Linked DNA regions of Homo sapiens. The protein of the gene in region 3 interacts with the protein of the main gene of each other region in a pairwise test. Each region holds a gene or a part of one and is shown on either strand. Other genes may lie near its edges. The genes, in order: FOXI1, CCDC13, USP54 and SMYD1.

Region 1 (7,208 bases), on a different chromosome or scaffold from region 3:
GGGGGCATGGCTCCCAGATGGCAGGATTTTCCCAAGGGGAAAGCAAATGGTTGAACGTTGCTTGGAGGAGGCTATGATGCCAGGCCTCCTGCCCAGAACCCTCTCCCGTGTCAATATCTGGCCTCAGGTACCCTTGCATTCATCATCATCCTCATGATCTGCAGCTTTTGCAGATCATGGGCTCCACATTTTACTTACACATTTATATTACTTTTTCCTTCCAAATCCACATGAGACGGATTCTAGTTTCATCCTCACTTTATTGATAAACAAACGGAGGCCTTGTAAGATTAAGAAACTTGGCCAAGATCACAAGGCTACCAAAGAGCGAAGCTGGGATTTGAACCCAGTTCTATGCAATCCTCAGGCCCACGTGTTCCATGTTTTACTGCTTTGTCCCAAATGTCACAATTTGGGGTTCAGAATATACAGAATATATGGTCTTTCATGTCCAAGAAGGCCTCCCTCTGGACTGTAGTATGCAAACTGCATCCCAAGCATTCCCTAGGCAGGCTCAGGCCCTCACACACCCAACTCTTACTCTTATTTTTTATTTATTATTCTATTATTATTTCCCTGAAGCTGGGCAGAGCGCATCTTCTCAGGTTTGAATTTTCACTTCTAGAAATTTCAAAAAGTTTAAAATAATTTCATTCACAAAATGACCCTAGTTGTTAGAGACATTTGATTCTTTTCCCGGAGGCCCTAGGATGGTCAAGGCGGGCTGCAGGACCATAACTCTCAAACCTCACTGCGGGGTGGGAACAGCTAGCTCCTGTTGTCCACCCCAAGGGCTATAGCCAGTGTTCCTACAAATCTGGAATGAAGGGTCCTCTGGGATGCTTTGGACACCCTGGCCCGAAGGTTTAACCTTGTGACCAAGTGCAGAGAAGCTGTGATCCCCAGCTACTGGGCTCTGGGTGCCAGAGGCTCCCGGTGAATAAGGCCTCCTAAGACAGGCCAGGCTTTCTCTGATCTACTGGGGGAAAGGAACTAGGGTCCACATGCAGCTAGGGAGACCCAGTTCAGCATTCCTCAGAAAATGCCGCTAAAGCAGGAGACGCCAAAGTGGGGCAGAGTGGGTCCTGACCCAGCCATGAACTTGTGTGACTCTGGGCCCTCTCTGATTGTCATCTGTAAATGTAGAGTCTGGTTATAGAATCGGTGTCTACGCTGAATATTTCTCCCTCTGTTTTTGCATCATAATCCCTGTCACATCCCTGCTGCATGCTGCATGCGATTAACTCTCAGTGTAGCAAACATAGGTGTGCTTGATTGTACACAGCAAATGTATACTGACTATAATCTATAATAACTAATATTTATTGAGTGAGCCTGTATGTGCCATGTGAAATGATTGACATTGATTACACTGACTACCTCACTGAATGCTCACTGCAACTTCGTGAGTTAAGTACTGGCATCGTTCCCTTTTTCACCAGAAAACACTGAGGCTGAGAAAAGCTAGATCACTTGTCAGGGCCTGCAGTGATCCCAAGGTTGGGATTTGCAATACCAAGGTTGGGATTTGCAGCCAGGTCCTCCTGATCTCAGAGCCTGTGTTTGCTACGTCTCTGCTATATTATCTGTTTTTAGCCTTTCAAATTTAACCCCAAAAGCAAGTCACCTGTGTGCTTGCCTTTCTCTAATCATTTAAATCAGAAACTACGGAAAAACAACAACAAAAATTGCATCCAATTCTTCATCCAGAAATAATAATTGGCAGTTTGATATTTATGTTTCTAGATTTCATATACAATTATAAATACATATTTGTACTAAAAAAAAATCTCATGGCATTTTGCAACCTGTTTCTCCAAATAATATCATGAGAACATAAACATCTTTTCATATCATTAGTTATTTTTCCAGAATCTATTTTTCATAGTTGCATAATATTACATCATTTGGATGATACACTATTTAGCCAATCCCCTACTGTTGGGCATTTAGATTAGTTACAATTTTTCACCGCTATAAACAATGCTGTGGTGGGCATCCCTGTGGCTAATTCTTTGCTCTGTTGAATTTTGTAAGATAAGCTTTGAGAAGTGAAATTGCTAGGTTAATTGTAAGGCTTTGAGTCTGTACTAGGGGACTCCAATGTGACTGCTCTTTGAAAAGTCAGGGCTCCACCTTCAGCAAGCCAGGCCTCCTCATAGAGAAACTGTACCAAACAAAAATTCTGCCTCTGGCTTGGCTCTGCAAAGTGTGCCTTACTCTAAGCCTCATCTGGACAGCCAGAGCCTTTCAGAGAGTCACATTTCATCACTGTTTTATGGTGGGGACAGGTTCCTCTGGGCCTAACATGACCACTCCTACCCAGTTACCTGGAACTCATCCTCTGGGCACCAATATGCTGAAAATGAAGTTTATTCAGTCTCATTCATGTTTGCCACATGTGTCCCCACATAACCATGAAAGAGGAGCAGAGAGGGGAAGAATTCTTTGGGGAGCATCCTCTCCAGTTGGGACAGTCAGTGACCTCTTTCTCTTGCCTCAAAGAAAGTAGGGCATGCAGGAAGTGGGAGGAAGCTGGATGGGAAGAAGAAGGAGGCAAGCGGGAGCGAGGTGGTGACCAGAGGGGCTGACCCCAACTTTTCTCCCATCTGCTTCATCACAGAGAGAAGTCTCAGCTGCTACCAGAACCTGGTCAGGGGCCAGCGCCTACCCTCTGAGTAGGGAGACCACCACCCATGGCCCAAGCTGAGGGCCTGACCTGGGGCACCAGGGGAGGCTGGGACAAGATGGAGGATGGAGCCCAGATAGGAGAGGAGCTGGCTGAGCCACAGGGAGAAGCCAGCAGGGGCTGCAGCTCCTGCTTCTGGAGCCTGAGGGAGAGAGAGAGAGGACGCCTGGGGCATGGTGAGTCGGGCGCTCTCCTCGTGCCCTGGCTGCCTCCATGCCAGGGGCCTCTGCGAGCTGAAACATGAAAGGTCTTTGGATCAGAGAGGAGCTGGGAGCCTGCTTGCCCTGCAGCTGGAAAGAAACTTGAATTGTTCAAGTTCTCTCACTTTTCCCTGAAGACTGATTCCCCATTTTCCCCTTTTGCTATTATTTTTAAGAGCCTTGCTGCTCTCCAGGCAAATTCTCAGGTTCTCTGCCCGTCTGCAGCATGTATGCATATGCGTGTGTGTGTGCGTGCGTGTGTGCGCGTGCGTGCGTGGGCGTGTGCGCGTGTGTGGGCGTGCGCGTGTGCGTGTGCGCGTGTGTGCGTGTGCGCGTACGCGTGTGTGCGTGTATGTGTGTGTTGGGGGAGGCTGCGGTGCCTATGACTGGTTGCCCCCTTGAACCCCACCAGAAGCCAGCCCAGGCCCCTCTGCGCCCTCTTCTGAGTCTCCAGGGCCGGTTCTCTCCTGGCAACTCCAGAAAGTGCCTCCTCACCTCAAAAGACCAAGAAACAGGGTTTCTGATAAAGTGTCCCACCCAGTCCCGGCTGGGGCAGTTGGTTAGAGAATGAGGGGACATTGGGGGGAAGAGGAGGGAGAATGAGGGGATGGGAAGAGAGGCGCAGAGAAAATGAGAGGTGGAGAGAAAGGGACAGAGTGAAAGAGAAGGAGAAAGGGGAGAAGCCGGGAAGACAATGAGAATGGAAGCGAGAGATGGAAGTGGAAAGAAGAACTGGAAGCCTAGAGACAGAGGGAGAGAGGGAGAGAGGGAGGGGGAGAGAGAGAGAGAGAGAGAGAGAACGGGAATGAGCAGCTGTGATGTGGCCAGATCAGTTCATAGAAAAGAAACACAGTTCAGAGCAGAAGGGAGGAAAGAAAATAAGAAGGAAAGAAACAGAGAATGAGATGCAGAGAGGAGAGGAGGGAGAGAGAGAAGGAAACCGAGGTGGGTAGAAAAATGTGACGAAAGGGAAGGACAGAAAAAAAAATGAGAGAAGTAAGACAGAATAAAGGAGAAAAAGAAGAAGGGAATCATGAGGATGGTGAGAAAAGACAGGAGAGAAAGCCGGGAGAGAGGATAGAGGGGCGTTCTCGCTGCGCTGCGTGTCAGCTCTGGTAAGCCGTCTAGCATGTCATTAGTGGGGACCTGAGGCGCCAGCGGGAAAGTCCCCTCCCCGTGGGCTGGAGGCTGAGGGAGGGCGGGCCCTGGGCTGGGATCCACAGGCAGGTGGCCGCCCCTGGGTGGGGCCGCCCGGCCAAGCCCTAGGGGTATAAGTGGGAGGCCGGGCCTGCTGAGCACCTGTCAGGGGCAGCTCCGGGGTGCAGGTGCCAGGCAGGTGGCTCCGGCCAGCCCAGCCCCAGCATGAGCTCCTTCGACCTGCCGGCGCCCTCCCCACCTCGCTGCAGCCCCCAGTTCCCCAGCATCGGCCAGGAGCCCCCCGAGATGAACCTCTACTATGAGAACTTCTTCCACCCACAGGGCGTGCCCAGCCCTCAGCGGCCCTCCTTCGAGGGGGGCGGCGAGTATGGGGCCACCCCCAACCCCTACCTCTGGTTCAACGGGCCCACCATGACCCCGCCACCCTACCTGCCCGGCCCCAACGCCAGCCCCTTCCTGCCCCAGGCCTATGGAGTGCAGAGGCCGCTGCTGCCCAGCGTGTCGGGGCTTGGGGGGAGCGACCTGGGCTGGCTGCCCATCCCCTCGCAGGAGGAGCTGATGAAGCTGGTGCGGCCACCCTATTCCTACTCGGCTCTCATCGCCATGGCCATCCACGGGGCACCCGACAAGCGCCTCACTCTCAGCCAGATCTACCAGTACGTGGCCGACAACTTCCCCTTCTACAACAAGAGCAAGGCCGGCTGGCAGAACTCCATCCGCCACAACCTGTCGCTCAACGACTGCTTCAAGAAGGTGCCCCGCGACGAGGACGACCCGGGTAAGGAGGCTTTGAGTGTGGGGGGTGTCCCCAAGGAAGACTCACTTCCTTCCTCCCCAAGACCCCATTCTAGAAAGTTCTGACTAGGGCTGTGCCCCCCAAGACTGGGGGATGCTACCAGGCAGGACAGAGGGGAGCTCAGCAGTGAAGGAGAGCATGGGCCTGGGGGAAGATTTGGGTTTCAGCCCTGGCTGTGCTCCTGCCCAGTCAGTGACCTCTGGCAGGTTAGACCTCAGAGCCTCAGTTCCCTCATCGGAAAACCAGGGATAGTGACAGCATCTGCTTTGCAGGCTGCAGTGGAGGTGATGAGATAATGTACACAAGGTTTTAGGTGTTATCAAGCGCTTAATCGCCTGCAGTAATTACGATTCATCTGCATCTCCAGCACCCAGCACATAGAAAGTCTTTGGTGAATGAATGACTGGACCAACCAAAGCCCAAGGGCATCCCAAGACTGCCAGGAAGAGGATCTGACCTGGGTTAAACAGCCACTAATGGCCCATTTTGCTGCCTGCCTTGTTTCTACTTAGGTAACCTCCTTTAACCCGAAGACACCCCTGCAGGGTAGCTCTTATGAAACCCATTCTACAGATTAGGAAAATAACACTCAGAGGTGACACAGAATGAAGTGATAGTGATGGAGCTTGAATTTGAACTCAGTTTTCTCTAACATCAGAAATTGTGAGCTTTTCCTTTTCAACGATGCATTTCTAAAACTCAGAGACCTGCAGAGAGGCATGTATTAAATACTCATGCATCCATTTCCCAGAATTAAAGTCCACTTTTGTTCCACCGCAGGAAGCCAAGGTATAGCTCAAAGGAACCCCAACTCTGCCCCATTTGAGGGTGGCAAACACCAGGCCTGTTTGTCCCCAGAAGAGGGCAAGTGTCCTGTCCAAGGACTGCCATCACCCTCAGGCTGAGAGACGGTAGCAGGAAGAGTTCAGGCCTTCCCTCGGGAAGGTACCTCCCAGCTGCAACGCTCCTTTCCATATCCGGTGTGGATCCTTTCTCAGTGGGCCTGAGGAAGACAGGGGCAATGGGCCCACTTTTCAGACTAGAAAACAGGTTCTTCCAAAGCCCCTCAGTCAGTGAGGAGCAAAGCCAGGACTCAAGTCTGTCTTCAGACTCCAAGCCTACGGCTATTAGGGAGTCCCAGAGTTTTCCTGAGTCTTCTTTTCCTTCAGCATTGAAAGCCCTCCAACCCCCAACCCCCAAATCCCTCAGCATCCCTGCTCCCAGTTCTTCATCCTTCTTAAAGAGACCTACATTGCAAACTCCTTAATGCTCATGCCTCTCGGCTGCAGTCCCAAAGGGCCCTGTCATGGGCTGCTTAATTAAAGATGGAGGTGGTGTGGTTCATCAGTTGATGGAATTCCTCCATTTCTCAGTCCCTGCCTGTCGGTCTCTGTCTTCCTGCATCTGTCACCTTGGCTTTTAGTTTATGACAATAAGGAGGAACAGAAGCAAAGCATTTTGTCCACCTCTCTATTTACCCCCTTTCACTTTTGTATCAGGCAAAGGGAATTACTGGACCCTGGACCCCAACTGTGAGAAAATGTTCGACAATGGAAATTTCCGCAGGAAAAGGAAGAGAAAATCAGATGTTTCCTCTAGCACAGCCTCCTTGGCCTTAGAGAAGACAGAGAGCAGTCTCCCGGTGGACAGCCCCAAGACCACGGAGCCTCAGGACATCTTGGATGGAGCCTCACCAGGGGGCACCACCAGCTCCCCAGAGAAGCGGCCCTCCCCTCCCCCATCAGGCGCCCCTTGCCTTAACAGCTTCCTTTCCTCTATGACAGCCTATGTGAGCGGGGGGAGCCCCACGAGCCACCCCTTGGTCACACCAGGACTGAGCCCTGAGCCCAGTGACAAGACGGGGCAGAACTCACTGACCTTCAACTCCTTCTCCCCGCTCACCAACCTCAGCAACCACAGCGGTGGGGGTGACTGGGCGAACCCCATGCCCACCAACATGCTCAGCTATGGAGGATCTGTGCTCAGCCAATTCAGCCCTCACTTCTACAACAGTGTCAACACCAGTGGTGTCCTCTACCCCAGGGAGGGCACCGAGGTCTAGGTACAGAACAGCTCCTGAGCCAGGTGGACATGCCAGAGAGAAAAGCAGTAGAGGTCCTCCATGCCAGCCCCACGGTGGTCCATGACTGCGGAACTGCCCAGACATAAGCAGGAGCCTCCGAGGAATCCACCCTCTTTCTAGAACACTGGTTAAGGCTTCTGTTTATCACACATAGGCCCACACACAGACTCACCAACTTTGCAATAGAAATACTGGTGCCTGCAGAGCAGCACTAACAGTGGCAGGTGCTGTACTAGGCTCTGTACTGGCCACACTTACTATTGACAGTCACCCCGTAAGGTT
Region 2 (7,757 bases), on a different chromosome or scaffold from region 3:
AGAATAACTTCTGGTTGGATGTGGTGGCTCACACCTATAATCCTAGCACTTTGGGAGGTCAAGGCAGATCGCTTGAGCCCAGGAGTTCGAGATCAACCTGGGCAACATGGCGAAACACCATCTCTACAAAAAATACAAAAATTAGCTCGGTGTGGTGGTGCGAGCCTGTGGTCCCAACTACTTGGGATGCTAAGGTGGGAAGATAACCTGAGCCCAGGTGGTTGAGGCTGTAGTGAGCTGTCATTGCACGACTGCATTCCAGCCTGGGCGATAGAGCGAGACCCTGTCTCAAAAACAAACAAAAACCCCCAAACCTCTCTACTTGCCCCGTTCTTCCACTCCCTAGCATCCTCTATTCTACTTTCTGTCTCTATGAATTTGTTCATTCTAGGTACCTAATATACATGGAATCGTACAATATTTGCCATTTTGTGTCTGGCTTATTTCACTTAGCATAATGTTTTCAAGGTTCATCCAGAATTCAGAATTTCATTCTTTTCTAAGGCTGAATATTCTGTGGAGTATATATACCACCTTTTGTTTACTCATTCATCTGTTGAAGGTTGCTTGGGTTGTTTCTACCTTCTGGCTATCGTGAATAATGCTGCTATGAACACTGGCATACAATTACCTGTTTGAGTCCCTTCTTTATTTTTTATTATTACTTTTTTTGTAGAGACAAGGTCTCGCTATGGTGACCAGGCTGGTCTCGAGTTCCTGGCCTCAAGCAGTCCTCTACCTCAGCCTCCCAAAGGGCTGGGATTACAGGCATGAGACACTGTGTCTGGCCAAGTCCCTTCTTTCAAATCTTTCGGGCATATATTTAGAAGTGGAATTGTAAATCATACGGTAATTCAATGTTTAACTTTTTGAGGAACCACCAAACTGTTTTCTACAGTGGATATACCATTTTACATTCCCACTAGCTCTACATAAGGGTTCCAAATTCTTCACATCCTGGCAAACACTTGTTATTTTCCATTTTTTGGATAATATCCATCCTAATGGGTGTGAAATGGTATCTCGTGGTTTTGGTTTGCATTTCTCTAATGGTTAGTGATGTTGGGCATGTTTTCATGTGCTTATTTGCCATTTGTATATCTTCTTTGGATTAATGTCTATTGAAGTCCTTTGCCCATTTTTGAATTGGGTTTTGTTGTTGAGATAGCTAACCTGATTTTTGACAAAGGTGCAAAAGCAATTCAATGGAGGAAGCATAGCTTTCCAACAAATGGTGCTGGAACAACTGGACACCATAGGCAAAAAAGCAAAAAAGAACCTTGATCTAAATTTCATACCTTTATATAAAAATTACATCAAAATAAATCATGGGCATAAAACTCTAACACTTTTATAAAAATGGGGGGAAATCTTTGGGACCCAGGGCTAGGCAAAGAGTTCTTTCTTAGACTTGAAATCAAAAGCACAATCCATTAAAGAAGGAATTGATAAATTGGACCTTGTCAAAATCAAAGCCTTTTGTTCTGTGAAAGCCCAAGTGAAGAGGATTAAAAGATGAACTACAGATTCGGAGAAAGTATTTGCAAACTACGTATCCAACAACGGACTAGTATATAGAATATATAAAGAATTCTCAAAACTCGACAGTTAGAAATTGGGCAAAAGACATGAACAGACACTTCACCAAAGAAAATATACAGATGACAAATAAGCACATGAAAAAGATGTTCAATATCATTATCCGTCACGTACATTAGAACCACAATGATATCACTACACACCTATTAAAATGACTAAAATAAAAATAGTGACATCAAATGCTGGCAAGGATGTGAAGAAACTGTGTCACTTAAACATTTCTGGTAAGAATGTAAAGTGGAACAGTCACTCTGGAAAACAGGTTTGGCAATTTCTTCTAAAACTAGATATGCAGTTACCATACTACACAGCAATTGCACTCTTGGGCATTTATTCCATAGGAATGAAAACTTATGTTCACACAAAAACCTATACATGAATGTTTATAGCAGCTGAATCATAATTGCTCCTAACTGGAAACAACCCAGATGTCTTTCAGTGGGTAAATGGTTAAACAAACTGGTACATTCATACTAGAACTACTCAGCAATAAAAAGGAATGGATTATTGATACACACAACAACTTGGATGAATCTCCAAGGAATTGTTCTGAGTAAAAAAAAAAAAAAATCCATCCTAAAAAGTGTACATGCTGAGTTATTTCATTTATATAACATTTTTGAAATGACAAAATTTTAGAAATGGAGGGCAGACTGGTGGTTGTAAAGGGTTAGGGACTAGGGCAGGAGGAGGGAGGGAAGTGTACATAGTCATAAAATCACAACAGAGAGATCCTTGTGATAGTATTTGGTATCTTTTTTTTTTTTTGAGACAGAGTCTCACTCTTGTCGCCCAGGCTGGAGTGTAATGGCGCGATCTCAGCTCACTGCAACCTCCACTTCCTGAGTTCAAGCGATTCTCATGCCTCAGCCTCCCAAGTAGCTGGGATTACAGGCAAGCACCACTATGCCTGGCTAATTTTTGTTATTTTTAGTAGATATAGGATTTTGCCATGTTGACCAGGCTGGTCTTGAACTCCTGGCCTCAAGTGATCTGCCTGCCTCAGCATCCCAAAATGCTGGGATTATAGGCGTGCATGAGTCACCATGCCCGGCTAGTATTTGATATCTTGATGGTCATGGATACACAAACTGACACGTGATAAATCAAAAGAAAAGTACAGTTAAATTGGAGAAATCTAAGAGGAGTAGGTTGTATCGATGTCAATATCCTGGTTGTAATATTATACTAAAGTTCTGCAAAATATCATTGTGGAGAACTGGAAAAGTATACAGGGGATCTCTATTATTTTTTACAACTGCATGTGATTCTATAAAAATCTCAATATAATTTCAAATTAAAAAGCAAAAAACAAAGGGCAGTGTCCTACAGATACTTCTGGCTAGAGAAACAAAGTGGGCTGGAATTAACAAACATCTGTATACTGTACATGAGGAAATACTGGTGACCCAGATTGGATTCGCCAGCTTCTTGGATGATAAAATGTCAAGCTTATAAACTAAAGAAAATTCTCAAAAGAATTTTGGGCAGAAAAAAAAAATGGCATGAGAGCCTTAGTGGTGACCGTGGAAAAGTAACAAACCTAGAGGAAAATCATCCCTGCTTTTTAAAAAATGGGTTACTGCAAAAATGATATCCTCGTCAAAAATAATCCTTGGATTGCTGGAGCAAATGTTACCCCTTTCCCAAACTTTCTAATACATACATTCTAGAATGTCGGTTCTGAAATTCTCTTGCATCCTTAATTTTCTCACAGCATGTTCTTATTTTAATGAAAACCTGGCTTTCTGCTAGGATCCATGCTTTCCAGAAGCCCTCTAAGTAGACCTGGCTATTCCTTTTCCTATGCCACATAGTCCCATCGTGGTCATGAGGCAAACGAATGATACTCCCCACTACACACACCATTTAAAAAAAACCCTAATCCTTTGAGGCTCACATCTACCTGAATCCTACTCTTTATCCTGTCTCTCTTTGCTGCCACCTGTATATTATACGTCTCCCACCCTCAGCTCACCAGGCAGCAATTGGAGACCAACGGGAAAGATCCATTTTTCCTTTATCAGGAAACTTCGGGTTTATACCTGCAGTGCTGATGGCAGTCTAGTGCCGTATCTTATGTATGCATGTCTATGGGATGGGTATTCATTCACCTTATGAGGAAAAAAAATAGAAAAACAACTGCCAAGGTTTTCAAATTATGAAGTCCTGGATAAATATTTGGGCAGGAGCTGTGGCTCACGCCTGTAATCCCGGCACTTTAGGAGGCCAAGGTGGGCGGATCACCTGAGGTCAGGAGTTCAAGACCAGCCTGGTCAACATGGTGAAACCCCGTCTCCACTAAAAATAAAAAAATTAGCCAGGTGTGGTGGCGGGTGCCTGTAATCCCAGCTACTCAGGAGGCTGAGGCAGGAGAATCGCTTGAACCTGGGAAATGGAGGTTGCAATGAGCTGAGATCGCACCACTGCACTCCAGCCTGGGCGACACAGCGAGACTCTATCATAGATAGATAGATAGATTAGATAGATAGATAGATAGAAAGAAATCTCCCTTGAATCATCTTTCCTAGAAATTTGCCTCCCACCCCCATATTGCCCTGAAATATAGTAGTGTCTTACATTGGAAGGTGCCATTTAAAAAAAAAAAAACAAGTATTTTCCTTTATGAAAATAAACGATGTTCATTATTTTAAAAATTCTCTAAAGTGTAAAAATAAAAACACAGCACTGCTATTCCACCACCCAAATATAACCACTTTTAATATTTCTATTTCGGTCTTGTTTTAGTGCCTAGTTTGAAATAAACACAACTTTATTTATTTAGCATTGCTATATTGCGTCCTGCTTCCTTCACTCACCATCATAACATGGCCTTTCCCCACACTGTTTTACATTTTTCAAATATATCTGAATGGCTACTTTAAATTTCATGGTGAGATCGTTCGCTTTTTAACTCCCCAACAGGAGAGCGGAATGGGCATCTCTGTGCAGAACGTTTGGTCCACAAAACTTTTTTAAAAATATACTCCAGAAGATTTAAAATCTCCAGCGCACTCGAGATCGTGCTCGCTTGGATCCAGCCCAGCGCGCCATCAGCGCCTCTGTCACTTTCAGAACTCTTGGCGCCCCCTCGGCCCCCGTAGAGTAGCGTTGAAAACGCGCAAGTGACGTCGCTTGTTTCCCTGGTGACGGTTGCCAGGGCAGCGCGTGTCGGCGTCCGGAGGAGGTGACCTAGCCGCCGCGGTCCTAGAAGGGAGAAGTGGAGAGAGACCGCTGTAAGTGCCGGGGAGAGCGGAAGGGCCCGGGCCGGAGCTGGGAAAGCCCGCAGCTGCCGGGGGCGCGGAACCGAGCCCGAGCGCAACCCCAGCCCGAGCGCGCTGCCACTGGCCGGGCGCTCACCGCGTGCTGGGCGCCCAGCGAGGACTCTTCCCCTTCGTCCTTTGAATCTTCACACACAGCCCTCTTCTAACCCAGGCAGACGCTTATTTTCCATGCAGTACATGGGTTAATGAGGCGCAGAGGGTGGGTCGCCTGCCCCAAAGTCATAGCGTAGATGGCACAGTCAGAACTCGAACTCAGGTCCGCCTGACAAGCGCTGTTTGCTGGGCCTCTGCCACTGGGCCCTCTCGCACCGCACTGAAAGATGCGACCCGACGGCGTGCACTTCCGCATCTCCCAGTTCCCCTTCCAGGCCCAGCCCCCACAGGACTGGGGACTCGCAAGAGGGAGTTCCCCTCCAAGCCCGGAGTCCAGCCCTGAGAACCAGAGCATCACCCCGCTCCCATCCCAAACCCATCCCTACGAAGATGCTAGCAGTGCACAGAGCGCCAAACTAGGCATCCGTGGGCGGCCTCCCCACACCTCCAGGCCCCTAGACTGTTGTTGAGAATACTCGAAAAGAACACAGTAAAAGAAAAGAAGAAAGAGAAGGAGAGGGGAAGAGAAAAACAATGAAAAAAGTGGCAGGCCGATGGGGCAAGGGGTCTCAATCCTTCCTCACTGGTCCCTGTCACCTATGGTCCCATATCCTGTGGGATCTTGCTTCCTCATAGGACTCCAGAGTGCATGCCACTCTTCCTACTCCCTGGCTCTAAGTCCTACCTGAGCCAAGAGTTCTTTCCATGCAGCTCTAGCCTTTACTTTATTTTTTTTATTATTACTTTTTTTTTTTTTTTTTTTTTTTGACGGAGTCTCGCTCTATCGCCCAGGCTGGAGTGCAGTAGCGCGATCTTGGCTCATTGCAACCTCTGCCTCCCAGGTTCAAGCGATTCTCCTGCCTTGGGCTCGAGTAGCTGGGATTACAGGCGCCCGCCACCATGCCTGGCTAATTTTGGTATTTTTAGTAGAGATGGGGTTTCACCATGTTGGCCAGGCTGGTCTCAAACTCCTGACCTCAGGTGATCCACCCACCTCAGCCTCCCAAAGTTTTGGGATTACACGCATGAGCCACCACGCCCGGCTTAGCCTTTACTTTTAAAAGAAAATAGACTTAAAGCAGATTTTTAGAAGCATTAAACAAAAAACAGTTCCTTTATGTATTCCGTATTCCCATTTCCTCTGTTGTTAACATCTTACACATTGCATTGGTGTGGTACATTTGTTATCATTGATACAACTATACTGGTATGTTATTACTAACTAAAGTCCATAGTTTACATTAGAGTTCATCTGTTGTTGTTGTTGCTGCTGCTGTATTGAGACAGGGTCTCACTTTGTCACCCAGGCTGGAGTGCGGTGGCATGATCATGGCTCACAGTAGCCTCCAACCCCTGGGCTCAAGCAATCCTCCCACCTCAGCCTCCTGAGTAACTGGGAACACAGGCACATGCCACCATGCCCAGCTAATTTTTTTATTTTTTGTAAAGCTATGGTCTTGCTATGTTGCCCAAGCTGGTCTCAAACTCCTGGCCTCAAGTGGTCCTCCCACCTTGGCTTCGTAGAGTGTTGAGATTACAGGTGTGAGTCATCACACCTGGCCAGTGTTCATTGCTTAAGGTTGCACAGGTCTACAAGTTTTGCTAAATGTGTAATGCTGTGTATCCACCAGTAAAGTATACAGAACAGTTTCACCTCCCCAAAAACCCCCTAGGCTTTACTGTTCATTGTTCCTTCCCACCAACCCCTGGAAACCACTGATATTTTTCATTTAGAAGGGATTTACAATCACTGGTATCTTTTACTTCTCTGTAATTTTGCCTTTTTCAGAATATTATACAGTTTGCAATTATACAGCATGTAGCCTTTTCAGACCGGCTTCTTCACTTAACAATACACATTTAGGTTTCTTTCATGTCTTTTCGTGGCGTGATAGCTCATTTCTTTTCATCACTGAATAATATTCACCGGTATGAGTGTACCAGGTTATCTACTCACCTATTGAAGTACATCTTGTTTTTTTCTCATTTTTGGTAATTATGAATAAAGTTATTGAGTCCAGAATTGTGGGTTCTTGGTCTCACTGACTTCAAGAACAAAGCCGCAGACCCTCGCGGTGAGTGTTATTACAGTTCTTAAAGGTGGCGTGTCTGGAGTTTGTTTCTTCCTTCTGATGTCAAGATGTGTTCAGAGTTTCTTCCTTTTGGTGGGTTCATGGTCTCGCTGGCTCAGGAGTGAAGCTGCAGACCTTCGCGGTGAGTGTTACAGCTCTTAGGGTGGTGCGTCTGGAGTTGTTCATTCCTCCTGGTGGGTTCGTGGTCTTGCTGGCTTCAGGAGTGAAGCTGCAGACCTTCACGGTGAGTGTTACAGCTCATAAAAGCAGTGTGGACCCAAAGAGTGAGCAGTAGCAAGATTTAGTGCAAAGAGCAAAAGAACAAAGCTTCAACAGTGTGGAAGGGGACCTCAGCAGGTTGCCACTGCTGCCTGGGGCAGCCTGCTTTTATTCTCTTATCTGGCCCCACCCACATCCTGCTGATTGGTCCATTTTACAGAGAGCCCATTGGTCTGTTTTACAGAGAGCTGATTGGTCCGTTTTGACAGGGTGCTGATTGGTGCATTTACAATTGCTGAGCTAGACACAAAAGTTTTCCACTTCCCCACTAGATCAACTAGATACAGAATGTCAATTGGTGCATTTACAAACCTTGAGCTAGATACAGAGTGCCGATTGGTGTATTCACAATCCCTTAGCTAGACATAAAGATTCTCAAAGTCCCCACCAGATTAGCTAGATACAGAGTGCCGATTGGTGCATTCACAAA
Region 3 (7,032 bases):
GAGTCATATTGCTTTGGGGAAACATCTCAGTGACTAATAGAACAAAATCCAGATTATAAAAACATATTTGAAATGGTTAATTTCTGTGTATTCCCATGAGCCCAAATCACCCTGTATTTTGTAAATGTGGCCTCATAGTTCCTTTGGCCGGGCTGCCTCTCAGGACCCCAGGTAGGACTTGCCTCCCTGTATAGCATCCTGGATTTTTGCTGTTTGGTATGAGTGATTTTCAGGCTTTGCTTACCTTCCATGTCATCTGCATGTGAGACTAGCTGATTTTGTTTCCTAATTTGCAAGTAGAATGTGATTGGAATGCGACTTCACAGGTAGTGAAGAATATTGGCAAGGGCTCCACTTAATGTTACTGTGCAACTTTGGTGAGGGTGTTTAATAAAGAGGATTAACGTTACCTATTTACCTGAGTGTGAGCTGACCATGTGCCTTTTCTTTTGTGATCCTCTGAACTACTGACTCTACTTGTGCTTGTCTTTCTGTTTATTTTTACCATTCCCTGTGTGAATAGCTAGAAATGGGAATGGAATGTTGAGTTCTTTCTGTAAGTGTTCCTGTCAGTCAAGGCAGCTTATGACTAGCTCTCTCCATTTGTTTCAGTGAACAGCCTATCCCGCTCCAAGTATTGTTAAGCCAAGAGGCCCAACTGGAATCCGGCATGGATACAGAGTTTGGGGCCAGTTCTTTCTTCCATTCACCTGCTTCCTGCCATGAGTCACACTCATCACTATCTCCAGAGTCATCTGCCCCACAGCACAGCTCCCCCAGTAGATCTGCCTTGAAGCTTCTGACTTCGGTTGAAGTAGACAACATTGAACCCTCTGCATTCCACAGGCAAGGTTTACCTAAAGCACCAGGGTGGACTGAGAAGAATTCTCATCATAGTTGGGAGCCATTGGATGCCCCAGAGGGTAAGCTGCAAGGCTCTAGGTGTGACAACAGCAGTTGCAGCAAGCTCCCTCCACAAGAAGGAAGAGGCATTGCTCAAGAACAGCTGTTCCAAGAAAAGAAGGATCCTGCTAACCCCTCCCCGGTGATGCCTGGAATAGCCACCTCTGAGAGGGGTGATGAACACAGCCTAGGCTGTAGTCCTTCAAATTCATCAGCTCAGCCCAGCCTTCCCCTGTATAGAACCTGCCACCCCATAATGCCTGTTGCTTCTTCATTTGTGCTTCACTGTCCTGATCCTGTGCAGAAAACTAACCAATGCCTCCAAGGCCAAAGCCTCAAAACTTCATTGACTTTAAAAGTGGACAGAGGCAGTGAGGAGACCTATAGGCCAGAGTTTCCCAGCACAAAGGGGCTTGTCCGTTCTCTGGCTGAGCAGTTCCAGAGGATGCAGGGTGTCTCCATGAGGGATAGTACAGGTTTCAAGGATAGAAGTTTGTCAGGTAGTCTAAGGAAGAACTCTTCCCCTTCTGATTCTAAGCCTCCTTTCTCACAGGGTCAAGAGAAAGGCCACTGGCCATGGGCAAAGCAACAATCCTCTCTGGAGGGTGGGGATAGACCACTTTCCTGGGAAGAGTCCACTGAACATTCTTCTCTTGCCTTAAACTCTGGGCTGCCTAATGGTGAAACTTCTAGCGGAGGACAGCCCAGGTTGGCAGAGCCAGACATATACCAAGAGAAGCTGTCCCAAGTGAGAGATGTTAGGTCTAAGGATCTGGGCAGCAGTACTGACTTGGGGACTTCCTTGCCTTTGGATTCCTGGGTGAATATCACAAGGTTCTGTGATTCTCAGCTTAAGCATGGGGCACCTAGGCCAGGAATGAAGTCCTCCCCTCATGATTCCCATACGTGTGTAACCTATCCAGAGAGAAATCACATCCTTTTGCATCCACATTGGAACCAAGACACAGAGCAGGAGACCTCAGAATTGGAGTCTCTGTATCAGGCCAGTCTTCAGGCTTCTCAAGCTGGCTGTTCTGGATGGGGGCAGCAGGATACCGCCTGGCACCCACTTAGCCAAACAGGTAAGAATGCAACCAGGGGTTGGGGGGAGGGGGGAGGATCATATAAAAGCTGAAAGCAGGGAAAGATCAGAAGGGAGTGTTCTATACAGATACTATCCCCAGCTTAGTAGGAGGTAATAGAACTTTTGACTTTACTCAGAAAGCCTTCAGGACAAGACCTAGACATTTTTCTGGCTAGAGTGGAGGAAGGGGCAGAATTACCACTCATAGGCAACTTCCCTCCTTCTAAAGTAAGAGATTACTAAGTATTTGCCCATGGCTTCTCCAGTATGCTGTGCTAAAGAATGGTTCAGGGCCGGGCACGGTGGCTCACTCCTGTAATCCCAGCACTTTGGGAGGTCGAGGCGGGCAGATCACAAGGTCAGGAGATCGAGACCATCCTGGCCAACATAGTGAAACCCCTTCTCTACTAAAAATACAGAAAATTAGCCGGGCGTGGTGGTACTTGCCTGTAGTCCCAGCTACTCGGGAGGCTGAGGCAGGGAAATCACTTGAATTCGGGAGGCAGAGGTTACAGTGAGCTGAGATCGCACCACTGCACTCCAACCTGGGTAACAGAATGAGACTCCGTTTCAAAAAAAAAAAAAAAAAAAGAATGGTTCATAGGTGTTTGAGAGTGATTCAGCATGACAGCATGAAATGGAGGGAGGCTGAGAGGAAAATATATTCTTCTATGGCTTAGAATCCCAAGATTCAGCCTCCAGGTCTGCTTTGCAGTAGGATGTCCATATGCTCAGTGTGGACATTTCCAGATCATACTGAACCAGCAATATCAAGACCTTCCTGATCCCTTTAGGAAAAGTCAAGTTTGGTGTTCAAGGAATTTTTAATGTACTATATGCCTACAGGGTAGCCACTGACTGAGATAATACAGAGTGAAGAGTAGAGCCTGCACCTGAAGTGCACATCATAGTCAGTTCTGGAAATTGAAGACATGAAGAATGTTTGTAACTTACATTGATGCACTTAACTCCAAAGCCTGAACTATTTTCCTGATTCCAACATTAACTCTCAGTATAAATTTGGACAAGTCACTTAATATCCCAGGGCCAAGGTTTTACCTGTAAAATGAGAGAACTGGCTTTTTTTTTAAAAAAAGATATGTTCTAACTCTAAAATGGCATGTATGATTCTGTGAAATTGAACTTGGAGAACTTTTCCTTAGCTTGGCTGTGACAGTTTCTGTAATGGTGCAGGTTCCTTGCATGCTGACAACCAACATATAATTACAGTTGAGTAAGTGTTTATTGAGTACTTACTGTGTTCTCCAGAGCCTTTGAGGGGAATACCACATAAATATAAGATTTGATTTTTTATTCATTTTTTTTTTTTTCTGAGAAGAGTTGCACTCCTGTTGCCCAGGCTGGAGTGCAATGGCGTGATCTCAGCTCACTGCAACCTCCGCCTCCCGGGTTCAAGTGATTCTCCTGCCTCAGCCTCCCAAGTAGCTGAGATTACAGGCGTCCACCACCACACCTGGCTAACTCTTGTATTTTTAGTAGAGACAGGGTTTCACCACGTTGGCCAGGCTGGTCTTGAACTCCTGACCTCAGGTGATCCCCCCGCCTCAGCCTCCCAAAGTGCTGGGATTAAAGGTGTGAGCCACCGTGCCTGTCCTAAGACTTGATATTAAGATACATTTCTGAGGATCCGTATCCTAATGTAGATTTTACAATAACATTTACTAAGGTGGTCTTTGATAGGACTGGTTGATATGGGAAGAATCTAAAGAATAAGGGAAAGCTGGAGTCTGCCTCAGTGAGCTTTCTATCTAAGGAAGCAAGAATACACAAATAATTTTTTTTTTTTTTTGAGACAGAGTCTCGCTCTGTTGCCCAGGCTGGAGTGCAGTGACGTGATCTCAGCTCACTGCAACCTCTGCCTCCTGGGTTCAGGCCACTTCTCCTGCCTCAGCCTCCCGAGTAGCTGGGATTACAGGTGTGTGCCACCACGCCCAGCTAATTTTTATATTTTTAGTAGAGATGGGGTTCACCATGTTGGCCAGGCTCATCTCGAAGCCCTAACCTCAAGTGATCCACTCGCCTTGGCCTCCCAAAGTGCAGGGATTATACACGTGAGCCACCGTGCCAGGCCACAAGTAATTATTTTAAGAATAATAAGGCCAGGCATGGTGGCTCATGCCTGTAATCCCAGCACTTGGGAGGCGGAGGTGGGCGGATCATGAGGTCAGGAGATTGAGACCATCCTGGCTAACATGATGAAACCCCGTCTCTACTAAAAATACACACAAAAAAATTAGCTGGGCACGGTGGCCCACACCTGTGATCCCAGCATTTTGGGAGGCCGAGGCAGGTGGATCACCCAAGGTCAGGAGTTCAAGACCAGCCTGGCCAACATGGTGAGACCCTGTCTCTATTATAAATACAAAAAATTAGCTGGGCATGGTGGCGGGCACCTGTAATCCCAGCTATTTGGGGGGCTGATGGCAGGAGAATTGCTTGAACCCAGGAGGTGGAGGTTGCAGTGAACTGAGATTGTGCCACTGCATTCTAACCTGGGCGACAGACCAAGACTCTATCTCAAAACCAAAAACAAAAAAAAATTTGTATTACCCAAAATAGCAACATTTTTCATTGCAGGTAGTTTGAAAATACATAAAGTATCAAAAATCACTGATAATCTCACTCTTAATGTTTTCATAAGCTTACCTTTGGTTTTCATTTTTATACACATGTACTATATAGTTTTGTTTTTGCAAAAAGCAGTATCCTTTACACTATATGTATACAGTTTAGTATCATGACTTTCTCATGTTATATCTGTGAGCATTTGCTGTAAAAACTACCTTTAATGGTTATAAAGTGTTTCATATGAATGTACTGTAATTTATTTCTTCAACCATCCTACTATTGTTGAATATTTAGGTTACTTACAATTTTTTTTTTTTTTTTGAGGCAGTCTCGCTCTGTCATCCAGGCTGGAGTACAGTTGCACAACCTTGGCTCACTGCAACCTCCGCCTCCCGGGTTCAAGCAATTCTTCTGCCTCAGCCTCCCGAGTAGCTGGAACCATAGGCGTGTGCCACCAAGCCTGGCTAATTTTTTGTATTTTTAGTAGAGAAGGGGTTTCACCATGTTGGCCAGGCTGGTCTCGAACTCCTGGCCTCAAGTAATCCGCCTGCGTCAGCCTCCCAAAGTGCTGGGACTATAAAGTGAGAAGTGACTATAAGGTGAGCCACCGCTCCTGGCTTACTTGTAATTTTTAATAACATAGTACTGTGTTGAATATCTTTGCACTTAAGTGGTCACGTTTCTCATGAGCTCCTTAGAATAACCTTTTAGAAGACTAATAACTAGTTGAATGTTATAAACTTTTTTTTTTTCATTTTTGAGACAGGGTCTCATGTTGTTGTCTTGGCTGGAGTGCAGTGACATGATCACAGCTCACTGTAGCCTTGACCTTCTTGGCTCAAGAGATCCTCCCACCTCAGCCCCTTGAGTAGTTGGGACTACAGGCATGCACTACCATACCTGACTAATTTGAATGTTATAAACTTAAAAAAAATATTGATACATACTGGCCAGTTAGCTTTGAAGAAGACTATACTTCTGAAAACAGTATGAAAGAGTACTTACTGACCATTAATTTTTTTGTCTAGTAGTGTAAAGAAACAAATTTTTAAAAATCTATCTAGTAGTCAATCTATTCTCAATATATTTATCAAATCAAGCGGAGCATGATGACTCATGCCTGTAACCCCAGCTACTTGGGAGACTGAGGCAGGAAAATCACTTGAGGCCAGGAGCTTCAGGCTGTAGTGTGCTATGAGCACATGCCTGTGAACAGCCACTCTCCTCCAGCCTGGGCAACACAGTGAGACCCTATCTCTTAAAAAAAAAAAGTAAAATCAAACTAGTCTTTATTTTTGTTAGAGTCCTTGGTTTAAAAACTGAGTCCTTAAGAAGTGACATGACAGGCTGGGTGCAGTGGCTCACACCTGTAATACCAGCACTTTGAGAAGCCAAGGTGTGAGGATCACTTGAGCCCAGGAGTTCAAGACCAGCTGGGCAACACAGTAAGATCCCCATCTCTACAAAGACTGAGAAAATTAGCTGGGTGTGGTGGTGCGGGTCAGTAGTCCAGCTACTTGGGAGGCTGAAGCAGGAGGATCAACTGAGACTGGGAGGTTGAGGCTGCGGCGAGCTGTGGTCATGCTACTGCGCTCCAGCCTGAGCAACAGAACAAGACCCTGTCTCAAAAAAAAGAGGAGTGATATGACATAGAATAAAGAAGTGATCAGATAGAATTAATTGGGAAGTAGATGAAGGAAAATGCCAATTAGGATTCACATATGAAAAAATATAATTTGGCCAGGTGCGGTGGCTCACGCCTGTAATCCCAGCACTTTGGGAGGCTGAGTCGGGTGGATCACCTGAGGTCAGGAGTTCGAGACCAGCCTGACCAACGTGGTGAAACCCCATCTCTACTAAAAATACAAAAAAAATTAGCCGGGTATTGTGGCACGTGCCTGTAATCCCAGCTACTCGGGAGGCTGAGGCAGGAGAATTGCTTGAACCCAGGAGATGGAGGTTGCAGTGAGCCGAGATCACGCCACTGCACTCCAGCCTGGGTGACAAGAGTGAAACTGTCTCAAAAAAAAAAAAGAAAAAATATAATTTGAGAGTTCTTTATCTTATTGTAAAACATTTATTAAGCACCAAATTACATTACTTTTTAAAATTTATTTATTTTTTGAGACAGAGTCTCGCTCTGTTGCCCAGGCTGGAGTGCAGTGGCACAACCTCAGCTCACTGCAACCTCCGTCTCCCAGGTTCAAGCGATTCTCGTGCTTCAGCCTCCCAAGTAGCTGGGATTACAGGCATGTGCCACCACACCTGACTAATTTTTGTATATTTTGTAGAGACGGGGTTTCACCATGTTGCCCAGGCTGGTCTCAAACTCTGAGCTCAAGCAATCCACCTGCCTCAGCTTCCCAAAGTGCTGGGATTACAGGTGTGAGCCACCACGCCCGGCCACCAAATTAGTTTTTCAAAAAATGCTAAAAAAAAAAAAATGCTTTATTGAT
Region 4 (7,000 bases), on a different chromosome or scaffold from region 3:
GGACCAGCGAAGGAACCTGAGAAACTAGATCAGAAGATCATCACAGGGAAGTGGGTCACCAAAATCAATGGCTGGGAGTGATGATTGACATCGAAAGGCCAAATCACATAGGAACTAAAATGTACCCATTAGATTTGATCTTGGTAAGAGCCCTTTTAGTGAAGGAGTGGGAGTGGAAGTCAATCTGCAATGGATTCAAGAAGAAATGCAAAGTGAAGAAAGGCAGATGATAACTATACAACTAAAAAAAACTCAGTCATGAAGATTAAGATCCAAGAGTTCTCAGCATTTTTACTGATTGCACCTGAGAAGGCCAGTGGGGTGACAAATGTCAAGGATCCAGGATGGAGAAGCAATAATAGATGGAGCAAAGTCTGGGGGTCAAAGCAGGGGAAGGGATCCAGAGTACATTCCAAAGGGAAGAAGGACTTGCATTCCAGTGGTCTGAGAGGGAAGGAGGAGCACAGACACAGAACACAGTTTGTTAAAGACAACAAATATTAGAAAGATAGGATGGAAAAAAAGACTACGAATATGGGGAAATGACCAGGGGCTTAGCAGATAACAATGACAAAGAAGGGAAAAAGGTTTGGGGGAGACATTTTATATGAAGGTAAAAGAGTGATAATTTGAACTAGCCAGTTAGATCCCTGGGAGAAAGTTAGTGCCGTCCCTAAGCCTGTGATGTGGGGGCTTGAAAGACTATCAGTCTTCTTGTAAAACCTTCCAGAAAGGAAATTCTTCAAACAAGACCTAAGTGTCAGATACAAGTATTTTGCAAAAGTGTGGCCCATTTGCAGAGTTTTCAGCCACTGGGTAGTGCTCAGAGGGACACAGCAGGTCATCATGTGGTGAGGATGGAGAAGCTAACATTTAGGCAGAGATAACAAACGTGGGACCTGGTGGGATCAATTTACTTCAAGATGTGGGGTACAGCTCTGAGGTCAATGGTAGTCCTGGGTTGTGTAGAAGTCTTGGTGACACCCCAAACTGAAGGGATCTTTTCCAGGATCTCCCAAAACATTGGTGAGAAATTTGGGGTCTCAGTAGATAACAGGATAACAGGCTAATCTTGGGACTGGTTGATTCTCAAGACCCTCATTTCTTAGATGGAAATCACAACAGCCTTCCAGGAGATCGGGATAAATTGGCCACACCTCTGAACAGGGTCTAACCCAGGTGTACAAGAATCCAGATTCAAATGTTCTTTCTGGTGAGAAGAGCAGAAGCCCCCAGGGCATGACAGAAAAAGAAACTCAACAAGGGAAGTAATAATTATTCAGTATTGAGAATGGAGCTTCATGGGGGCCCATGATAGAGTCTAAGCTGGTAAAGACCACCCAGGCACATGTAACCAAATAAAGCCCCCAAGGGCCAATTCTGCAGGGCCCATGATCAACAGGTATGTGTGTTTCCAAGATTCTCTCTCAGCTTCACTTTGAAAATATTTTTTAAATCCTACTAGGCAAATAGCCAGAAAAATATCAGACATTATCTAAAATCACAGGGAACCACAAGGCTTGGTAATAAGGGTGATAGAGGGACTTATTCCCTCTCTGTGTGTTCTAGAAATATTTCTAGAATTCTAGTTGGAACCCAGACTTTTTTTCCCTGGACTTTAAGACCTCAGTTGGTTTGGGCAAGGCCCCCAGCCAGCTCTTTCGACATATGCACCATTCTGAAGTGGTTTCAGGTCTCTGAGTAGAGCCTACGTGGCCCAAACACAGCCCCTTCTTCAAAACTCCACACCAACCACACAGTATCACATATCCTGCTCAGCCAATTGTGTCTACTGCAGACCACAGGTGAGACCAGCAGCCCCAGAGACACCTGCACAGATGGGTGAGCAGCCACCTGAGACTCCAGGCACCTGCTACCCTCAACTCAGATGTCATACTCTCTGTGATACCCCCACTGCACACACACACATCACACACCAGACACATTCCCTCCTCTGCACCCTCCTCCATATAGTTTATAATTGCATTTATTATTACAGTGTGCTTTAAATGTTTCTCTACATTTTGCTTCCCCACCCAACGACATTTGGAGCTCCTTTATTGGGTTCTAGGGCCTATCATCCAATAATATTTGTAGGAGGAGTTGATCTGGGCTGGGCTAGAGTTAACTTGAATTGAATAGACTTGAATTGAGCCAAAATGGCTCTGGGAAACATAGGGCAGTAAATTCTCACAGCAACAATGTTAAGCATTACCTCAACTTCCTCATTAGGGGTCTCCCGAGAGACCCACCACCTCCAGAGTCTCTCCCTAGCTCCCCAGCCACATCGCCCCTCCTCCACTGGGCAGTCCTCATTGCTTCTTGTGGAACAGAGCTGGGGATGGCTCATTGCTGGGCTCGGCCATGACCTGCATGGGCTGGTTGTTCAGGGCAGCCTCGCGCATCTTGTAGTACATGAATTCGTTCTGGCGGAACATGCGTAGCTCCATCTCCGTCTGCACCCGCATGGCCTGTGGGACACAGATACACCGTAAACAGTGATAGCAAGCCCCTAGGACATGCTGGTCTCTGATATACCTTGGGGTAAATTATTTCCAGCCACGGAGATTCAACTCTACCCCCTCAGAATACACACACACACACACACACACACACACACACACTCATTCATCAAGGGCCTAATGTCCTGGCAGTGGGCCCACTTTGTCAGGGAGAGGGAGTCAGAACCCTGAGAGAGTAGCTGAAGGAACCGTTCTCAGAAAAGAATGCTTGTTCCCAGGAACTGCCCAGTGGGGACCTGGATTTGAACCCTGGCCCCTGCAGATACTAGTGTGGGACCTCAGGCAAGAGACATAATCGCTTCAGCCGTCAGTTTTCTCACCCATTTTGTGGCTTCATACCTTACCGTGGGTTGGGAAGATGACAGTGTGTGACACACAGAAGAGCCCTCATCCTCCCACATGTCCATTCAAGAAATACTTCTTAAGGGCCAGGCATTCAGAGGCCGAGGATACAGCTGTGAGTAAAATTGACAAAGGCTCTGCCTTTGACAGGCTCGGTACCCTAAACATAAAGCTAGTTAGTCCGCTTCTCTGCCCCTCACTTGGTCCTCCTGCCAATTTTAAGGGGCTAATATATTATTTCCATTTTATAGATGAGGAAACCTGGGATCTGAATAGTAAGAGGACATCCATGTCTGAGACCACGCCAGTCCTAAATGTCATAGTCATCCTACATTTTATAACACCAAAGTCTGTCCACCTTCCCTAGACTGTACTGTCTGAGGACAGCCCTGTCACTCTCAAATAAACCAGCTTTTCAAAGCACCAAGGACATCAGCAGCACCATTTGCCAGGCACTAAGTGCATTTCACACATTGACTCATGAACACGCATCACAACCCTATCCTTTCCCCCTATTTTACTGATGAGGAGACTGACAGCCATACATTCAATATTTGCAAAATCACACAACCAGAAAGCGGTGAAGCTGGAACTCAACCTGGAGGTCTGATTCCAGAGCCTGTGATCCCTAACTCCACTCCATGTTACACAGAATACTTTCTAATATAAATGGCTGTGTGCATGCACACACGCACACATGCACACCCCATTGTTTACGCTTCCTCAGTCCAGGCTTGGGGTGTTATGATTCAACAGACTCAGGCTTCAAGTCTTAGCTTTGCCATTAGCTCGCTATGTGACTATGGACAGATTGTCCTCCTTCCCTGGGCCTCAGTTTCCTCATGTGTGAAGCAAGGTGATATGGTTTGGATATCTGTCCCTTCCAAATCTCACATTGAAATGTGATCCCCAGTGTTGGAGGTGGGGCCTGGTAGACGTGCTTGAGTCATGGGAGCAGATCCCTCGTGAATTGCTTAGTGCCACCCACTTGGTAGGAGTGAGTTGTCGCTCTGAGTTCACACCAGATCTGCTTGTTGAAAAAAGCCTGGCACCTCTGCCTCTCTCTCTTGCTCCCTCTTTCATCAGGTGACACACTGGCTCCCTTTCCCTCCTGGCATGATTAGAAGCTTCCTGAGGCCCTCACCAGAAGCAGATGCCAGCACCACACTTCCTATACAGTCTGCAGAACCATGAACCAACATAAGCCTCTTTTCTTTATAAATTACCCAGTCTCAGGTATTCATTTAGGGTAACATGAACAGTCTAACACACAAGGGTAGTGGGCTAAAGCGTTTCTGAGTTCCCTTTTGTCTAGCTGGGAGTATGTGGACTTTTCTAAAGCAGAGTCCACCTGAACTCACACTCCCATCCTCAGAAAGCTCAGGCCAGGAAGGGAACACCAGCCTCAAGACGCTACTTGCCTCTAAGTCCTTAGTGATGGGGTGGGAGGGTCCGTGTGTCACCAGGAGAATGGCATAGGCTTTGCAGATCATCCCGTGCCCCACCTCAATGTTACCAGCATGCCAGTTGGTCAGCCCTGCCCGCATCACGGCCATGCCCAGTTGGGCATTGTTGGGGTGGTAGAGCTTCCTGTGGGAGCATAGCAGATAATTATACATCATACCAATCACCCTTATATCTGCACTTAATTTAATAATGTATAAAGTGCCCTTGTTGATTAAGCCCATCTGTCTTCCCCTCAGCACTGCAAGGCTTCTGTAGCCGCCAAGGGGGAACTGAGGCACAGAGATATGGAACAAGTTGCCAAACATTCTACACAGTGAGGCTGTGACAGCTGAAACTCCGGCCTGGGCTGCCCAGCCAACTCCTTGTGAGAAAAAGGGACCAGGATCATACTTTCTGAGCTTGGGGACTCTAGCCAAGATGGCCGAATAGGAACAGCTCCAGTCTACAGCTCCCAGCGTCAGCGACGCAGAAGACGAATGATTTCTGCATTTTCAACTGAGGTACCAGGTTAATCTCACTGGGGATTGTCGGACAGTGGGTGCAGGACAGTGGGTGCAGCGCACCGAGTGTAAGCCGAAGCAGGGCAAGGCATGACCTCACCTGGGAAGTGCAAGGGGTCAGGGAATTCCCTTTCCAAACCAAGGAAAGGGGTGACAGACAGCACCTGGAAAATTGGGTCACTCCCACCCTAATACTGCGCTTTTCCAATGGTCTTAGCAAATGGTACCCCAGGAGATTATATCCCACGCCTCGCTCGGAGGGTCCTACACCCATGGAGCCTCGCTCATTGCTAGCACAGCAGTCTGAGATCAAACTGCAAGGCGGCAGCGAGGCTGGGGGAGGGGCGCCCGCCATTGCTGAGGCTTGAGTAGGTAAACAAAGCCGCTGGGAAGCTCGAACTGGGAGGAGCCCACTGCAGCTCAAGGAGGCCTCCCTGCCTCTGTAGACTCCATATTATCTGAGCTTGAGCACAGGAAGCTCACAGCATTTGGGAGTACCTCAGACGTCTCCCCAAAAAGTGGTAGGAAGGTCAAGGGAGAAAAAAATAATTTAAATGTCCTTTTTGAGACAGCATTGTATTTTCACCTGGTTGGCACCCTTTTGCAGGGCTTCCTTAGCATGTTGTACAGTTTATCTACATTTTGTTTATGACTAACATCCTCTCAAAGAAATGAACGTGTGTCAACTTATTTGGCCAGAAACACAAATTTGCATGACAACATAAACACAGAAAGCAAGAGAGGGTATTGGCAGATGGAAGGCAAGGGAATTGAATTTTACAATTTTTTTTTTTTGAGACAGTCTTGCTCTGTCGCCCAGGCTGGAGTGCAGTGGCGCAGTCTAGGCTCACTGCAAGCTCCGCCTCCCAGGTTCACGCCATTCTCCTGCCTCAGCCTCCCAAGTAGCTGGGACTACAGGTGCCCTCCACCATGCCTGACTAATTTTTTGTATTTTTTAATAGAGACGGGGTTTCACCATGTTAGCCGGGATGGTCTCTATCTCCCCACCTCGTGATCCTCCCGCCTCGGCCTCCCAAAATGCTGGGATTACAGGCGTGAGCCACCGCGCCTGGCCAGAATTTTACAATTTTTAAGCAAAGTGATTGATGGCTCTTTTAAAAATAAATAAATAAATAAATAAAAGCTCCTAGACTTGCCTGTGTTGATTACAGGGTGGAGGGCAGGGTCCAATCACTTAAAATCAAGCTGGGGTTAGCCTGAAGGAAGTCAAAAGCAGAAGATGCCACCCAAGTGATAGATGTGCTGGAGAATTTGGGAAAGACCAGGGATGACAAATAGGTTTCATCTCAAGCACAAACTCTGATTGGTCATTAACACTGGAGCACCATGATAAAAAGACTCAGTCAAAAAGAGAACCATGATGGATTACTGACGCCTGCTGTGGGTATAGGAGGGAGAGGCACCAGTAAATGTGCCATCTATTTGCCATCCCTGGAATACACACACTTCCAGGAGACTATCTGAGACCTAGAATCGTCACCTACATATAGCCGTCCACCATCCTCCTGGCATAGAACGAGGCCTCCTCAAAGGCCTGGAGGTAGGAAAGGACCTCCGAAACAATGCTCAGCATCCGCAGCATGTAGATGTTGGTGTCAGCAAACACTGGCTCCTGCTTCTCCAGGCACTCCCGGCATAATTTCACAACCTAGAGTGAGACAGAGGCCCTGCCCATTACCATTGCACCAGAGCACACGTTTAATTCACATACGCGACCATCATGGTGATACCAGACAATCATTCTTTTTAAGACTGGGGCAATTGCTGACAGAGGTGGGAAAGCACAGGTTTGGGGTATGAATTGCAAAGTGGTCCTGTTGGCTAAGGTGTAAGAATGGGAAGGGTAATGGTGTGAGACATGGCAGATGCAGCACAGCGAGGAGTTTCCAAAATCAATAGGTAGCAGGAAGCTATGAAAGCTATACATACACACACACACAAACACACACATATATGTACAGTCAGATCTGTATATGCACAAGTTCCACATCCATGGATTCAACCCACTGCAGGTCAAATATATATATATATTTCGAGACAAGAGTCTCACTCCATTGCCCAGGCTGAAGTGCAGTGGCTCAGTCTCAGCTCACTGCAACCTCCCCGTCTTAGCTTCAAGCGATTCTCCTGCCTCAGTCTCCTGAGTAG

What was found.
Region 1: the proteins of USP54 (region 3) and FOXI1 interact in binary tests that used the Homo sapiens proteins (3 or more experiments, as listed by UniProt).
Region 2: the proteins of USP54 (region 3) and CCDC13 interact in binary tests that used the Homo sapiens proteins (3 or more experiments, as listed by UniProt).
Region 4: the proteins of USP54 (region 3) and SMYD1 interact in binary tests that used the Homo sapiens proteins (3 or more experiments, as listed by UniProt).

The regions. Positions count from the first base shown.
Region 1 is NC_000005.10:170,101,707-170,108,914, forward strand, and holds the start of FOXI1 (forkhead box protein I1), read left to right. Parts: upstream 1-4,190; 5' UTR 4,191-4,251; coding exon 4,252-4,825; intron 4,826-5,210; exon of another isoform or gene 5,211-5,355; intron 5,356-6,342; coding exon 6,343-6,905; 3' UTR 6,906-7,208. UniProt on the Homo sapiens protein: Transcriptional activator required for the development of normal hearing, sense of balance and kidney function.
Region 2 is NC_000003.12:42,770,254-42,778,010, reverse strand, and holds the start of CCDC13 (coiled-coil domain-containing protein 13), read left to right. Parts: upstream 1-4,757; 5' UTR 4,758-4,835; intron 4,836-6,933; exon of another isoform or gene 6,934-7,399; intron 7,400-7,757. UniProt on the Homo sapiens protein: Required for primary cilia formation and promotes the localization of the ciliopathy protein BBS4 to both centriolar satellites and cilia.
Region 3 is NC_000010.11:73,511,328-73,518,359, reverse strand, and holds part of USP54 (ubiquitin carboxyl-terminal hydrolase 54), read left to right. Parts: intron 1-612; coding exon 613-1,985; intron 1,986-7,032.
Region 4 is NC_000002.12:88,105,825-88,112,824, reverse strand, and holds part of SMYD1 (histone-lysine N-methyltransferase SMYD1), read right to left. Parts: intron 6,501-7,000; coding exon 6,337-6,500; intron 4,455-6,336; coding exon 4,286-4,454; intron 2,472-4,285; coding exon 2,313-2,471; 3' UTR 1-2,312. UniProt on the Homo sapiens protein: Methylates histone H3 at 'Lys-4' (H3K4me), seems able to perform both mono-, di-, and trimethylation. Acts as a transcriptional repressor. Essential for cardiomyocyte differentiation and cardiac morphogenesis.